Linked DNA regions of Homo sapiens. The protein of the gene in region 2 purifies or fractionates together with the protein of the main gene of each other region. This does not show direct contact. Each region holds a gene or a part of one and is shown on either strand. Other genes may lie near its edges.

Region 1 (7,443 bases), on a different chromosome or scaffold from region 2:
GTGATCTGCCCACCTCAGCCTCCCAAAGTGCTGGGATTACAGGCGTGAGCCACCGCGCTCAGCCAGGAACTGGTTTCTAATAGCAACTGCCAGAACTTTGGCTTTTCAAGAGATGACAGCTAAGAAAGTACAACCTAAGGGTTTTGTGGGCCCAGCAATCTGCAATGGCAGCCTAAAGATACAGTGGAGCATCTGGAAAGGTGAGGTGGAAAGAAGAAAGGAAACAGAATAGATAACTAAACCAGTGACCCAAAGAAAACACAAGTATCACCAGATTACATGTTCTGTTTGACTTCCTCTCTGAGACTCAGAACTGCACATGTCAGCAACATTCCTTAATTTTTAAAAAGAGAGAAGAGAGTGGTCACGGAGGCCGTGTCTGTAGTCCCAGCTACTAGGAAGGCAGAGGTACGAGAATCCCTTGAGCTCAGGAGTTTGAGACCAGCCCAGGCAACAGAGTGAGACCCCATCTCAAAAAAATAAAAATAAAAGGAGAGGCCAGGTGCGGTGGCTCACACCTGTAATCCCAGCACTCTGGGAGGCCGAGGTCGGTGGATCACGAGGTCAGGAGTTCAAGACCAGCCTGGCCAAGATGGTGAAACCCCATCTCTACTAAAAATACAAAAATTAGCTGGGCATGGTGGCAGGCACCTGCAATCCCAGCTACTTGGGAGGCTGAAGCAGAGAATTGCTTGAACCCAGGAGGCTGAGGTTGCAGTGAGCTGAGATCGCGCCACTGCACTTCAGCCTGGGCAACAGAGCAAGACTCCATCTCAAAAAATAAATAAATAAATACATACATACATAAAGGAGAAAAAAATAAAAATAATTAAAGACCAAGTCATAGTCTAGATCTTCCTTAGCAGTTGGCCCAAGATCCACAAATGTTTGGCAGTGGGCTTCAAGATTTTCAGTTGTCTTTCCAGATCCTAAAGTCTAGGTGTGCAAAAACACCCTACATAAGATGCCCAATGAGTCAATACTGAACTCCTCCCGGCTAAAAAAAACTGTCAATTGTATGAAACTGGTAAATAGTTGTTAACATCATCATCATAATATTTACACGTGTTCTCTCTTTCCCTCGTGACCCTCAATGAAGGTGTCCCAGGCAGAAATATGGGCTACTGCTCAATTATTCGGCAGAGTTGATCCAAAAGCACTGTTCCTTCAAATTGAGATAAGACTCGAACAGAAGTGCTCCCATATAGGTCAAAAAAGGAAAGGAGAGCAGGACTCCAGCCTTAAAGCAGCATGATCACAAACTATGACGGAAAAGGTCATTTCCCACCTGCCAACGAAATACAACAACCTACAATGAAGAAACCTCAGTAAGTCTCAGACTTGGCCCAAAGGAGCCCAACTAGTTACTCCCTGGTCTGTTACAGAGGATCTGGCTATTACACTCAACAGCAAAAATTCAATTCAATCCCGCTAAAGATATAAGAATCACAAGGAAGAATAAGCCAGAACTCAAGACAGAAATAGCATTAAGTAGTTCCTTCAGTACAGTGAGCAGAAGCTGGCCACTCAACGACTCTAAAAGACACAGAAAAGCTTAGTAGGGACCACTGGGCATACCGGTGTCCTAGGTGGGGATTTCGTAACGTCTTTGAGTCAGAAGCTGCCCTCAAAATAGTTTCTTCTCAAAACGGTTTCAGGCTTTGTTAGAAAGGGAAGACTTCACTGCCACTTTACCCAGATCATCTACCCCATCCTTGGAATGAATGGGGAAGCTTCAGCCACCCTACCAGGCTCCTAAAATCACCAACTTGAGAGAAAAACTATAACGTTGCTCTACCAGTACTTCAGGAGGTTAAAGAAAGTCACAGAAGAAAAGAACTCTGGGGAAAACAGTCAAATTCGGCTATTAAGACATTAGTTACAGGCCCCTGTACCTCTCCTCTAGAAACCCTGGGAGTACACCCGCAGAGGAGAGAGAGCCCAAGCCACCAAGCAAAGTCAACCAATCTGGCAAAGGGGCGTCCCACTGCGGCTTTCAGTCCAAGAAGTGGATCCTGCTGGTTCGCAGTCTCTCTTCTATCTCCTCACTTCCTATTTACCCTTTGAAGTGGGTACTGAATAGCCCGTTCCCAAGCAGAGGCCCTTTGTATACGGGGTGCTACAGTCGCCTGGTGGAAACACCTTGGCAGAGTTGTTTGGTGCCAGGATGGGCCACTGAAGGCATCTGCTGTGGACACACACACACACACACACACACACACACACACACACACACAGAAAGAGAGAGAGAAAAACAGAAAGAGAGAGAGCGAGAAGCTAAGAGGGCAGGTCAGGTCGGCGTTGCCCTCCCAGCACTTACACCTGCCCCTTCTTCCTGACTCCGGCGCCAGATCAGATGTCAAACAAAAACTCCGCAAAAAAGTCCCATGATGGAATGACTTCCACCTCTCCCTCCGCAGAGCCTCCCCGGACTCCCACAGCCTCCCCCCGCGTCCCGACCAAACCCTCCGCCCCCACCCCGCCCCCGGACCACTCTGCCCTCCGCCCCGGCGAGGCCTGGCCCCTCTCGGGACACCCGGGGCCCCGAGGCGGGTAGGCTCAGGCCCCCAGGCCGGCAGGGCTGGAGCCGGCCCAGAGCGGGCGGCCCGTTCACCGGGGCTGCGGGAGCCGGTCCCCGCCTCGGCGCCCGCGGAGGGCAGGGGGCGGCGGTGACCCGTACCTGTCAGGTCTCTTCCCCCGACCGGCAGCGGCGCAACTTCAGGAGCCCATGTCCGTCCGGGGGGGGCGGCCCCTCTCCCGGGAAGGGGGGCGCGGATCCCGGGGAGGGGGCTGGGGGGCTCGAGCAGTTCTAGCCCCTTCCCATGCTCCCCGCCCGGCGCCTGGCCGGGGCCGGACAGCGCCTCCGCCCGCCCCTGCGCACCGCCTCACACCCGCGCTCACACACACTCACACTCCCTCGCGCGCTCTCACACACGCACTCCCCTCCCTCCTCCTCCTCTGTTTATCTCCTCCAGCTGTCTGGGGACCCAGGAGAAGCCCAGCAACGCGCCTGCGCCACGCAGTCTCCGCCTCCGCCCTGCGCCTCGCAGCCGGCGGGTACGCTACGAAGACTGCGCCCGGCCGCTTCCAGAATGGCTAGCCGGGCCCCCCCACTTACCCCCCCGCGCCCGGTCAACGTCTGCTGCCGGCGGCGCCCACTAACCTGCTAGTGGGGGAGCCCCGCACCGCCGTGGCCAATGGGCTTCGCCGCTTGCGGGACCGGCAGCCAGTGGGCGGGCGGGAAAGCTGGGCTAAGCCCTGGGGCACCCTGGGAGTCGTAGTTTTTCGCCGTCGAGGAGTTCCTGCAGAGCGGGCTCACCCCGCCCGGTTGCCATTAGTTACCCGGACGCACCTCCCACCCCACCACCGGGTAAAACGCTCCTCACACCGCTTCTGGGACACCCGCCCACACGCTCGCCCACTGAACCCCAGGTCCCCTCACAGCCCCTTAAGAGCTCCTAAGACTTCCTCTCAGCCCCCGAATTCTGGGACCTCTCAGGCTAGGGCCCCGGGGGGCTCCTCAGCCCACTCCTTCCTGCTCTGGGGGGCTGCTGAAGTGGCACAGTCCTCACTGACGTCTCCTGGGCCTTAAGGAAGAGAATGAAAGAGAATCGGGCCTACGCTGAGTAGCCTGGAGAGGAGTCAGCCACACACACTCTGGGTGCCCTCGGGGTGATGGGAGCGACTAGGTCCATCTGACCCTAGCGGAGTCACTGCTGCTCCCACCTCTGAGGAAGAGACGCAGTTCCAGCCTTGTGGAGTCCCGGGTCTGATGGAGGAGAGACCCTCCTCTTTATTAAGGAAGTTCCCAAGGTGACAAGGGTGGCACTAAGCCTATCTTCTTAAGGCAGAGACCAGGCCCCACCCGTGAAACCTCAAGTCAGAAAGGGAAGACGTGTCACCTTCTGACAAAGGAAACTTGTCACCCATAGGGTGCCATTTGTCAGATACTAACAATAATTCACTTTTATTCGCACTGGATTGGGTACAGTCTCTTAGCTAGGTACTATTGCTGTCTGTGTTTTGCAGAAAAGGAAAGCTGAAGCAGAAAGGCTAAAAGCAACTTGCCCCCGGGGTCCTGATAAGTTGGCAAATTGGGAATTAGACCCAGATCTGCCTGACACCAGAGTCTGAGCCTTTTAACACTGCCTGTCTTTCCTGTGAAAACCAGACAGCACCCGCTCTCAGTAAGGACTGAATATATGTATTTGGCATTTATAGTGTTTATCACTCCATGTGTCGCTTGTTTTTTTTTTTTTTTTTTTTTTTTTTTTCCAATTCTGCTCACATCATGAGTACGAATTTGTCTGTGAATACCTGAATACTCCCAGAGACAAAGGTAGTATTCTAATTGCTGGTGATTTCTCCGCAAGGGAGATTTCTCCCCATTTAGAGGAGTAAGAACCTATCCTTGTGAAACCGCTCACAAAGCCTTTTATGCCTTTCTCCTAAAAATATTGTGGGTCATTCCCCCTGAACTCTCCACCACAGCTGTTCTACTGAATATAAAAAATCATAGACTTTGGGACTAGAAGAAAGCTTTGAGATCATCTATCTGCAGCTCCCCAGGTTCAGGCTGCAACCTTGGTTAGGGTCATTGGGTTAATTAAACTGAATAATATCTAACATTTATTGAATACTTACCATGGGAGATAAGTGCTACTAGTGAATTAAGAAATACTCCCGGGCTGGGCGCGGTGGCTCACGCCTGTAATCCCAGCACTTTGGGAGGCAGAGGCGGGCGGATCACGAGATCAGGAGATAGAGACCACCTGGCTAACACGGTGAAACCCCATCTCTACTAAAAATACAAAAAAATTAGCCGGGCGTGATGGTGGGCGCCTGTAGAACCAGCTACTCGGGAGGCTGAGGCAGGAGAATGGCGTGAACCCGGGAGGCGCAGCTTGCAGTGAGCCGAGATCGCGTCACTGCACTCCAGCCTGGGCGACAGAGCGAGACTCCGTCTCAAAAAAAAAAAAAAAAAAAAAAGTAAAAGAAAAAGAAACACTCCCGGCCGGGCGCGGTGGCTCACGCCTGTAATACCAGCACTTTGGGAGGCCAAGGGCGGGTGGATCGCCTGAGGTCGGGAGTTCAAGACCAGCCTGGCCAGCATGGTGAAACCCCGTCTCTACTAAAAATACAAAAATTAGCCGGGCGTGGTGGCGCGTGCCTGTAATCCCAGCTACTCAGGAGGCTGAGGCAGGAGAATCACTTGAATCCTAGAGGCGAAGGTTGCAGTGAGCCGAGGTCGTGCCACTGCACTCCAGCCTGAGCAACAGAGAGAGACTCCATCTCAAAAAAAGAAAAAAGAAAAGAAAGAAAGACAGACTCCCACAATCACATAGCTAGGAAGTGGTACAGTTGGGATTAAAGCCTACACTATTCAAATCCAGAACCCTCATTTTTAAATCATTTTAGCATCCTGTGTTTTTGGCAGAGACCACCCCCCCCCCCACTTTTTTCTTCTTTTTTTGAGACAGAGTCTTGCTCTGTCGCCCAGGCTGGAGTGCAGTGGGGCAATCTCTGCTCACTGCAAGCTCTGCCTCCCGGGTTCACACCATTCTCCTGCCTAAGCCTCCCGAGTAGCTGGGACTACAGGCGCCCGCCACCAGTTTGTCATTTCATTTAGTACAGACGGGGTTTCACCGTACTAGCCAGGATAGTCTCGATCTCCTGACCTCGTGATCCACCCGCCTCTGCCTCCCAAAGTGCTGTCACTACAGACATGAGCCACCGCGCCCGGCCAGAGAACCCCCATTTTAAAGTCTTGTTTAATGCTGGCAAGGTCACAGAGGATCTTAGATATACTGATAGAGAAGAGTGGGTGATGTTTCTGTGACTCCTAGCACAGTCTATGGCACATAGCAGAAACTCAGTAAATATTTGTTGTCAGAATGAACTTTCGTTGGTAGAGACTGATGACAGGAAGAAGACTATTTCTTTTGAGACGGAGTCTTGCTCTGTCGCCCAGGCTGGAGTATAGTGGTGCAATCTCGGCTCACTGCAACCTCTGCCTCCTGGGTTCAAGCGATTCTCCTGTCTCAGCCTCCCGAGTAGCTGGGACTACAGGCACATGCCACGACGCCCGGCTAATTTTTGTATTTTTAGTAGAGATAGGGTTTCACCATAATTGGTCAGGCTGGTCTCAAACTCCTGATCGCAGGTGATCCACCTGCCTTGGCCTCTCAAAGTGCTGGGATTAGAGGCATGAGCCACCTCGCCCCACCAGGAAGAAGACTATTAACAACTGCAGTTACTATTTATTATTTTCTAATAGATACCACTCGTACTCTTACACTTGCTTGAGTTTCTCTCTTTCTCACTTCCTCTCTCTCCATATAGGCAGAGACCTATACATAAATCTATACATACATATGTGTACACGCACGCACACACACCCATATACATTAACACACACTAACTCATTTGCTTCTCCCAACCACGTTGTGAGTTAGGTATGATTCTTACTCCCATTTTACATAGAAGAAACAGAGACTCGGCCAGGCATGGAGGCTCACGCCTGTAATCCCAACGTTTTGGTTCCAGACCAGCGTGGGCAATACGGCAAAATCCTGTCTCTACAAAAAATATAAACATTGGCCAGGCGCGGTGGCTCACGCCTGTAATCCCAGCACTCTGGGAGGCCGAAGCAGGCAGATCACGAGATCAGGAGTTCGAGACCAGACTGGCCAACATAGTGAAACCCCGTCTCTACTAAAAATACAAAAGTCAGCTGGGCATGGTGGTGCGTGCCTGTAATCCCAGCTATTTGGGAGGGTGAGGCAGGAGAATAGCTTGAACCCTGGAGGCAGAGGTTGTGGTGAGCCAAGATCACGCCACTGCACTCCAACCTGGGCAACAGAGCAAGACTTCGTCAAAAAAAAAAAAAAAAAATTAGGGCAGGCATGGTGACTGGGCCGGGTGTGGCTCATGGCTGTAATTCTATCACTTTGGAAGGCTGAGGTGGGAGGATCACTTAAGGTCAGGAGTTTGAGACCAGCCTGGCCAACATGGCCAAACACTGTCTCTATTAAAAATACAAAAAAAAAAAAAAAAAAAATTAGCCAGTTGTGGTGATGCGTGCCTGTAGTCCTAGCTACTTGGGAGACTGAGTTAGGAGGATCGCTTAAACCTGGGAAGCAGAGGTTGCAGTGAACCAAGATGGCACCGTTGCACTCCAGCCTGGTACACAGAATGAGACCCTGTCTGGAAAAAAAAAAAAAAGGAGAAGAAAGAAGAAGATGGTTAAGTTCAAAATCAGACACATGCTTCCCAGCCACAGGTGTTTTCAGATTATGAAATAATTTTCTTTTTCTTTTTCTTTTTTTTTTTTTTTCAGACGGAGTCTCACTTTGTCACCCAGGCTGGAATGCAGTGGCGAGATCTCGGCTCACCACAACCTCCGCCTCCCAGGTTCAAGCGATTCTCCTGCCTCAGCCTCCC
Region 2 (7,023 bases):
ATCTAAGAGCCAGTATACCACTTCTATTTTCTCTTTTACCTTTAGCACTGACTGAAAACCACATACTGAGATTTTGAGGTGGAGGGGAAGATGGATAGACTAGGTTCCAGAATCACACACGGAGGAGAGCTGTCCATGGGAGTCCTCCTGACTCACATCACATTCACATGAGCTTAAAGGAAGCTTTTGCTATGTTAAGCCCCTGAAATTCCAGAGCTCATGTGTTATCACAGCAGAGCTTAACCTATCCTAACACAACATGGAAGACTAAAGACCAGGAAAAGAACAAAGTAAACTCAGGGAAATCAGGAGGAAAGGATCTGAGAAAAGCAGAATTTACTAGAAAACATATGTGCTGATCAAAAGCTAATGAGAAAGAAATCCAAATGAAAATAGCTTAAATCTAATTACTGACCGGGGTAGGGAGAGACTTCCTCTGGGGCAAAACTTGTCAAAGGGAAAAACAGAATTGTAAATTAGGAATGACAATAGAAATACAATGATATACTCAAAAACTTTCTATTAAATTTTAAAATCATAGTATAATGAATGCTTTTCTATCAAATATGTTATTCAAACTGACTCAAGAAAAAATAGACAACATGAATAGTCCAATAACCATTCAAGAAATCCAGAAAACTGTCAAAGAACTACATCCAGAAAACACCCTTGGAAAGTTGTTTTTATCTTCAAAGAATGAGTACTTCTCCATCTTACCATTCTATAGGAACAAAAAGAACATTGAACAACTCATTTTACACAATTAACAAAACATGACAGATATGGGGGAAAAAAATCAAATGCTTTCATTTATGAATGTTGAATGCCAACATCCTAAATAACAAATTAAATCAAGCAGTATTGAAAAATATGAACACACCATAGTCAAGATTAACTGCAGGAAGGCAAGGAGAGCTCAATATTAGAAAATCTATTGAGGTTCAAACATCCAAAACACAAGCTCCTCATGGGTACTGACTCTATCATTGATGTATCAATGATGCCTGGAACATAAAAGTGTCCAATAAATATATACGGAATAAATTATTGAGTGATGTCAAAATCAAAGAAAAAAACACATTGTGATTATCTGCAAATGCCATGATAAATCAAATTTAACTTTGATGTCAAAGAAAACCTCAAAGTAAAATAAAATTATGCAATATGTAACATAATTAAAAAACAAAATATCTCAAACCAATCATCATGCATTTTAATTGAGGTTAATAAGACATGAATGCCCACATATTGCCATGATATTTTAACATTGTTCTATAAGTCCTAGACAATGCAATTAGGTGAGAAAATAAAACAAGTATAAACCACCAGAGAGGAAAATACAAAATTATTATTTGCAGAAGACCTAATTGTCTCCCTGGAAAATCCCACAGACTCAATTTTTTTAAAAAAAGTATTTAAAAATAATGAGATAGTTCATGAAGGCGGCTGTTAAGATAATTACATAAAAATCAACAACTTCGCTACATTCCAGCAACAAAGAGTAAGAAAAAATATATAATTTAATAAAAGATTCAAATCACTGAAGCTACAGTAACAACACTGACAAATTACCTATAAGTAAAAGCAAAATTGTACAGGAGCAAAATGGACAAAAACTACTTTATAGGATTATAAATAGATTGGAATAAACATGCCCTATTCCCAGATGAGAAGAATTCGCATTATACTCAATATTGTAAAAATGCCCATTTTTTTCCATCTTAATATACACTTTTAAAAAGTAATACTGAGAGACAATAAACAAATGAGCACAGTCAAGAAAACTGATCAACTTTCTTTCATAATGGAGCAATTTGGAGGTTAACTGTGGTTAAGACACAGCATGATCCTTAGGCAAAGGCTGTTGTGCTCTAAAGACCCAGGAATGGCCCGGGTTGAAGCTGAGCTGAGAAGTTCAGCCTGACTCCACTCCCACCCAATGGACGGGGTCTCATGATAAGGATTAACCCACCACTGCTTATCTGGGTAGCTGAGCCCGTCTTAAATTCCTGCCAGAACCAACAGACAATAAAAAACAAACTAGAAATCACAGAAAAAGATAAAAGTAGATGAAATTTTTTAGTACACAATGATGATGATACTTCAATATGGTGGGTATGAATTACACTAATCAATAGCAGGGTAATCAATTTTAAAAAGCGTAAGTATTATACCTAAGCCATGTCATACATCAAAATCAATGACTGACACACTAGAGATCTGAAGGTAAAATGAAATTATTATAAATAGTAATAAAAATGCATGCATATTTATATAATCTGCATCTGGGCAAAGTATCCCCAGACATAACACTGAAGAACAAACCACAAATAGATAGACTTAAGATCACAAAATGTTAAATTTATACACGGCCAAAAGAAAAAAGAGACATACAACAAAAATTTTTAAAACCTCTAGGGAGATGTGTGTGGCATATGACAAAGCATACATATGCTTAATATATTAAAAATTACCTTAACATCAATAAGAAAACAATTGTGAACATGACTTTAGAAAAATGGGGCAAAGACAAATGCAGGCAATTTAGAAAAGGCAACTAATGTCAAGAGAACTTTAAAAATGTTCAGCCTCAAGGCCAGGCGCAGTGGCTTACACCTGTAATCCCAGCACTTTGGGAGGCTGAGGCGGGCAGATCACGAGGTCAGGAGACCGAGACCATCCTGGCTAACACGGTGAAACCCTGTCTCCACTAAAAATTCAAAAAAAAAAAAAAATTAGCCAGGTGTGGTGGCAGGTGCCTGTAGTCCCAGCTACTTGGGAGGCTGAGGCAGGAGAATGGCATGAATCCGGGAGGCAGAGCTTGCAGTAAGCCGAGATCATGCCACCGCACTCCAGGCTGGGTGACAGAGTGAGACTCCATCTCAAAAAAAAAAAACAAAGAAAAGTTCAGCCTCACTAGAAAATAAAAGAGGTGGGGTCAGGTATGGTGTTGCACACCTGTAATCCCAGCACTTAGGGAGACTGAGGATGGAGGATCGCTTGAGCACAGAAGTTCAAGGCTGCAGTGAAAGTAGTGTGTATGTATGTGTGTATAATATACACATTCAAAGTCTTAAAAATTCACATATTCTTTGACCCAGCAATTACATTTCTAAGACTTCATCCTAAGAAGCTAAATTCATGAGAAATATTTGCTAAGTGAGTAGCAAAAGAAAATGAGTTAACTACAGTGGAATACTGTATAGCCTTCAAAAATTATGCTGGGGATTAACAGTTATTGACATGGGATCATATCCAAGATGTAATATAAAGGAAAAAAAAACAGGTTACAAAACAGTATACAGAGTATGGTCTGTACTCTTTTTAAAGAATAGATAGATAGATAGATAGATAGATAGATATACTTCTCAAAAACTGAAAGACTATATCCAAAATATTAACTATGGTCTCTGGGTAATGAGATTATAGGTGATTTTTTTTTCCTTTTAGCCCATCCATAAGTTTATGATTTTTCTACCATAAACAAATATTACTTATATAACCAAAATGAAGGTTAAAAAAAGTAAATTGAATTCTGTGGGAAAATAAACATTTATTCTAAAAATAAGCTCTAAAGTTGGAAAATGAAAGCAAAACATCTGCTTCCTGGACAGAAAGAAGAGTTTGAAATTGCTAGACAGCCACAAGCTTCCCAAAGGCGGTGGAGTTCCAGGTGCCAGCTCAATTGGATGCCCCACGCCCGAGGGAAGAGGCCTGACTCTCTGACTCTCCCCCCAACCTCCTGCCTGACCTACAACTACATCCACACAGATGTAGCATAATTTTATTATTTGCTGTCTTTATCAAATAGCATTTGAAATAAACTGCTTTTGATTATTAATAAAAGGGATACTTACTAATCCCCTCTAAAAGGAATGACCATAAATTACCAGTATATTTGTATGGCTACTGATCCACTTTCTCTAGAGAAAAAAAAAATGGTCCTTATTGCCCATCATTAAAAAAAAAAAATCATTGATAAATTACTTTGATGGAGACAAACTGGGAAGGAAAATGATTAATTGCTATTTAAGAGCATGGCTTCCTCACGATGACTTGCAGGTCTGGGATAACAGAATTCTGCAGGAAATCTAGACAGCTTCAGGCTGACTGCTGACAGCAGCTCAGCAGAAGGTGAAACCCAGCAGACCCACACAGTGAGGATCTTAGAAGATAAGAGCAAAGAATATTCTCTCCAGATTTGCTAACCCAGTAATCGGTGGGTTAGTACACTCTGTTATCTCTCACATATATACAGCAGAACAGGCAGTAAGGCCTGGGCTTCCATAAAACTCTAATGAAAAACTTTGCTCTGAGACCCATTCAATGTGCACAGCGCTCTTTGGGGGACGAGTTTGGGTCCGCCCAGCCCTGCTGGGCTAACAGGAAGCCCATGGCAGGGCCTGTGTTGGTCTGGCAGGTCTAACTCACAGTAAGGGAAATAGAAGGGAAGGAACAAAGCAGTCCAAAGCCAAATTTGGAATTGGTTCTGATTTTCCTCTAATGTCCTATTGATTGGGTCACGGCTCTTAGAAGGCCTACTACAAGGCAGGGCAATGTCTCAGAGATACCTTCAAGGAAAAGATCCTCACTGACTTTGGCAGCTTTGGCCCAGACAAAAATGTCTGCAGCACCAGTGCTCCTAGAGGCTGCTGCAGCCTCAGCCTCCAGTTCCCAGGCTCCCCACCACTGGCTAATGCCTAGGCCTCTGCAGCTGAATTCCAAGAGCTGCACAGCAGCAATGATACCTGCAAAGCTGTGCACCAGAAACCAAGCCTGCTTTGCAATGTATGCAAAGCAGTCAAGGAATAGAAAACAAGGCTCCAGAGACAAAACTTTGTCTTCACTCCCCAACTCATAGCCTCTAAATCCACACAATTCAACCCGACCCAACCAGCCTTCTCCTTCCCGCACACCCACAGTTCCTCACCTACTCCCAGACACTTTGAACATCACTCATTTTAAACAAGAGGACAAGCCCCACTTGGACCATCACTGGGCAGTAGCTGTTGAAATCGTTTCTAAGAATCCTTTTCTACTTAGGAGGCCAACATTATTTTTGGAAGACTTGAATGGGTGTTCAGTGACAACGAACCACCTCAACCATTTGTTGAGGACTTCAGTGGACCAGGCTCCCTCCAACCTCATGACAGCCCTCTGAGGATGGGGCCGCTGTGAACCCACTGTGCAGACTGGAAAAAAAAGTCCTCCCCACCAAATCAAGGTACCATTACTTCTTCCATTTGCTTTATCTTAGTGGGTCTCGTGGGTGCCAAATTTTAGCTCAGGGCTTTGCTCCACCCAACATCAAGCAAATGTCACTTCCAAGAAAAATACTCTATGCCTTTCGGTATGCTTCTCACTCCAGCAACTGCTAGACTCTCTTGAAGGTAAAAAGAAAAATGCTGCCATCAATCAGGCAAGAACCAAATTCTCCCGTAAATCTTGCTCTGCCCTTCCAATGCCCAGAAGTGCAGCTGTTCCTCTCTCCTCTGACCACCATCACAACGTTAAAGAAACATGGTATCAGGAGCTTTCCCCATCTTTGAACTACTTCAAAAGACTCCCCTATCTATAGCGCATGGATCTTTTGTTCACTTACTCATTCCATTGCCAAAGAATGACAGAGGACCTTCTATACAGGGCAGCGTTAGGGCAGCTGTCCCTGCCTCCAAAGAGTTTAAAGTCTAGTGGGGAAAGTAAATGACAAAAGATAAAAATTATAACACAAGTGAGCCATTATTACCATAGCATGCTTTTAGAATGCAGGTTCCTTTTTTTTTTTTTGTGTGAGATGGAGTCTCACTCTGTCGCCCAGGCTGGAGTACAGTGGTGCAAGCTTGGCTCACTGCAACCTCCACCTCCCGGGTTCAAGCGATTCTCCCGCCTCAGACTCCCCAGTAGCTGGGATTACAGGCGCCCGCCACCATGCCCAGCTAATTTTTGTATTTTTAGTAGAGACGGGGTTTCGCCATGTTGGCCAGGCTGGTCTCGAACTCCTGACCTCAGGTGATCCACCCTCCTTGGCCTCCCAAAGTGCTGGGACTACAGGCGTGAGCCACCACGCCCGGCCTAGAATGCAGGTTCCAGGCAAACAGGAATTTTGTTTGCCCTGTACTGCAATACTCCCTGAACCAGAGCAGTGTCTGGGACACAGTAGACATCTAATAAAGGTACATATGCCATAGTGCATATAATTCAATAACAGTCATAACATTTGCCCAGAGATACTTGTAGCTACCATTTATTAAGCATTTCCTAGTGCTGAGCACTGCTAGGTACTTTTCACAGGTTATCTATGTTATCACTGTGGTTACCACATTACCACAGTGCAATCCTTAACTACTCCCATTTTGCAAGTAAGAAAATTAATGTGCAGAGAATTAAGCTCTGGATTCCATAGTCAGCAACAAACTAAACCTGTCCCAGTGGAAAGCCTGTGCTCCTAACCATGAGGCACACAGTGGCCAGGGAGTGCTTCCCAAAGGACGGATTGAAGTGAAGGGACAGAAAGGGGAAAGTTCAAAGCAGAAGGAACACGTGCAGACTAAGGAAACAGACCAAGGAGGGGCTGAAACTTTTGTCAGTTAAATACAATGGGTTTTATCAAATCTTTTCATAGTCGCTGACGCCCTTAATATGACTTGGATGTGAGCACTTCGAGAGAAAGTACTAGTAACCCAGCAGAGTATGTTTAAGTAGGGCAACTCCTACATTGTTAAAATGACTTTAAGTTTTATATTCAGAACTCCAGAACCTGCAACTTAGGGAAGGCGAGCCATGAGGAAGGACTTTCAAGTCCTCTTAGTCCTCCCTCGGAAAGAGGAAAACTTTAGAAAAATATAAGGATAAAAATCAAGTGCTTTATAACTGCACACCTAAAGTCCAAATTCCAATCCTATGTGCTTCTACTGATTTAAGAAATTAACAGGCAACCGCGGGCTCTTTTACTCCAATACTCATAGGATCATGACCCAAAACATTCTCAATAATAGAGGAGATACTGCCCCTCTCGCTGACCCT

What was found. The genes of interacting proteins can lie anywhere in the genome.
Region 1: the proteins of ARHGAP44 (region 2) and WDTC1 purify together in Homo sapiens (affinity purification with mass spectrometry; 2 studies listed by BioGRID and IntAct, with this or other methods). This does not show direct contact.

Annotation. Positions count from the first base shown.
Region 1 is NC_000001.11:27,230,189-27,237,631, reverse strand, and holds the start of WDTC1 (WD and tetratricopeptide repeats protein 1), read right to left. Parts: upstream 3,001-7,443; 5' UTR 2,681-3,000; intron 2,436-2,680; exon of another isoform or gene 2,321-2,435; intron 1-2,320. UniProt on the Homo sapiens protein: May function as a substrate receptor for CUL4-DDB1 E3 ubiquitin-protein ligase complex.
Region 2 is NC_000017.11:12,792,476-12,799,498, reverse strand, and holds part of ARHGAP44 (rho GTPase-activating protein 44), read right to left. Parts: intron 1-7,023. UniProt on the Homo sapiens protein: GTPase-activating protein (GAP) that stimulates the GTPase activity of Rho-type GTPases. Thereby, controls Rho-type GTPases cycling between their active GTP-bound and inactive GDP-bound states. Acts as a GAP at least for CDC42 and RAC1.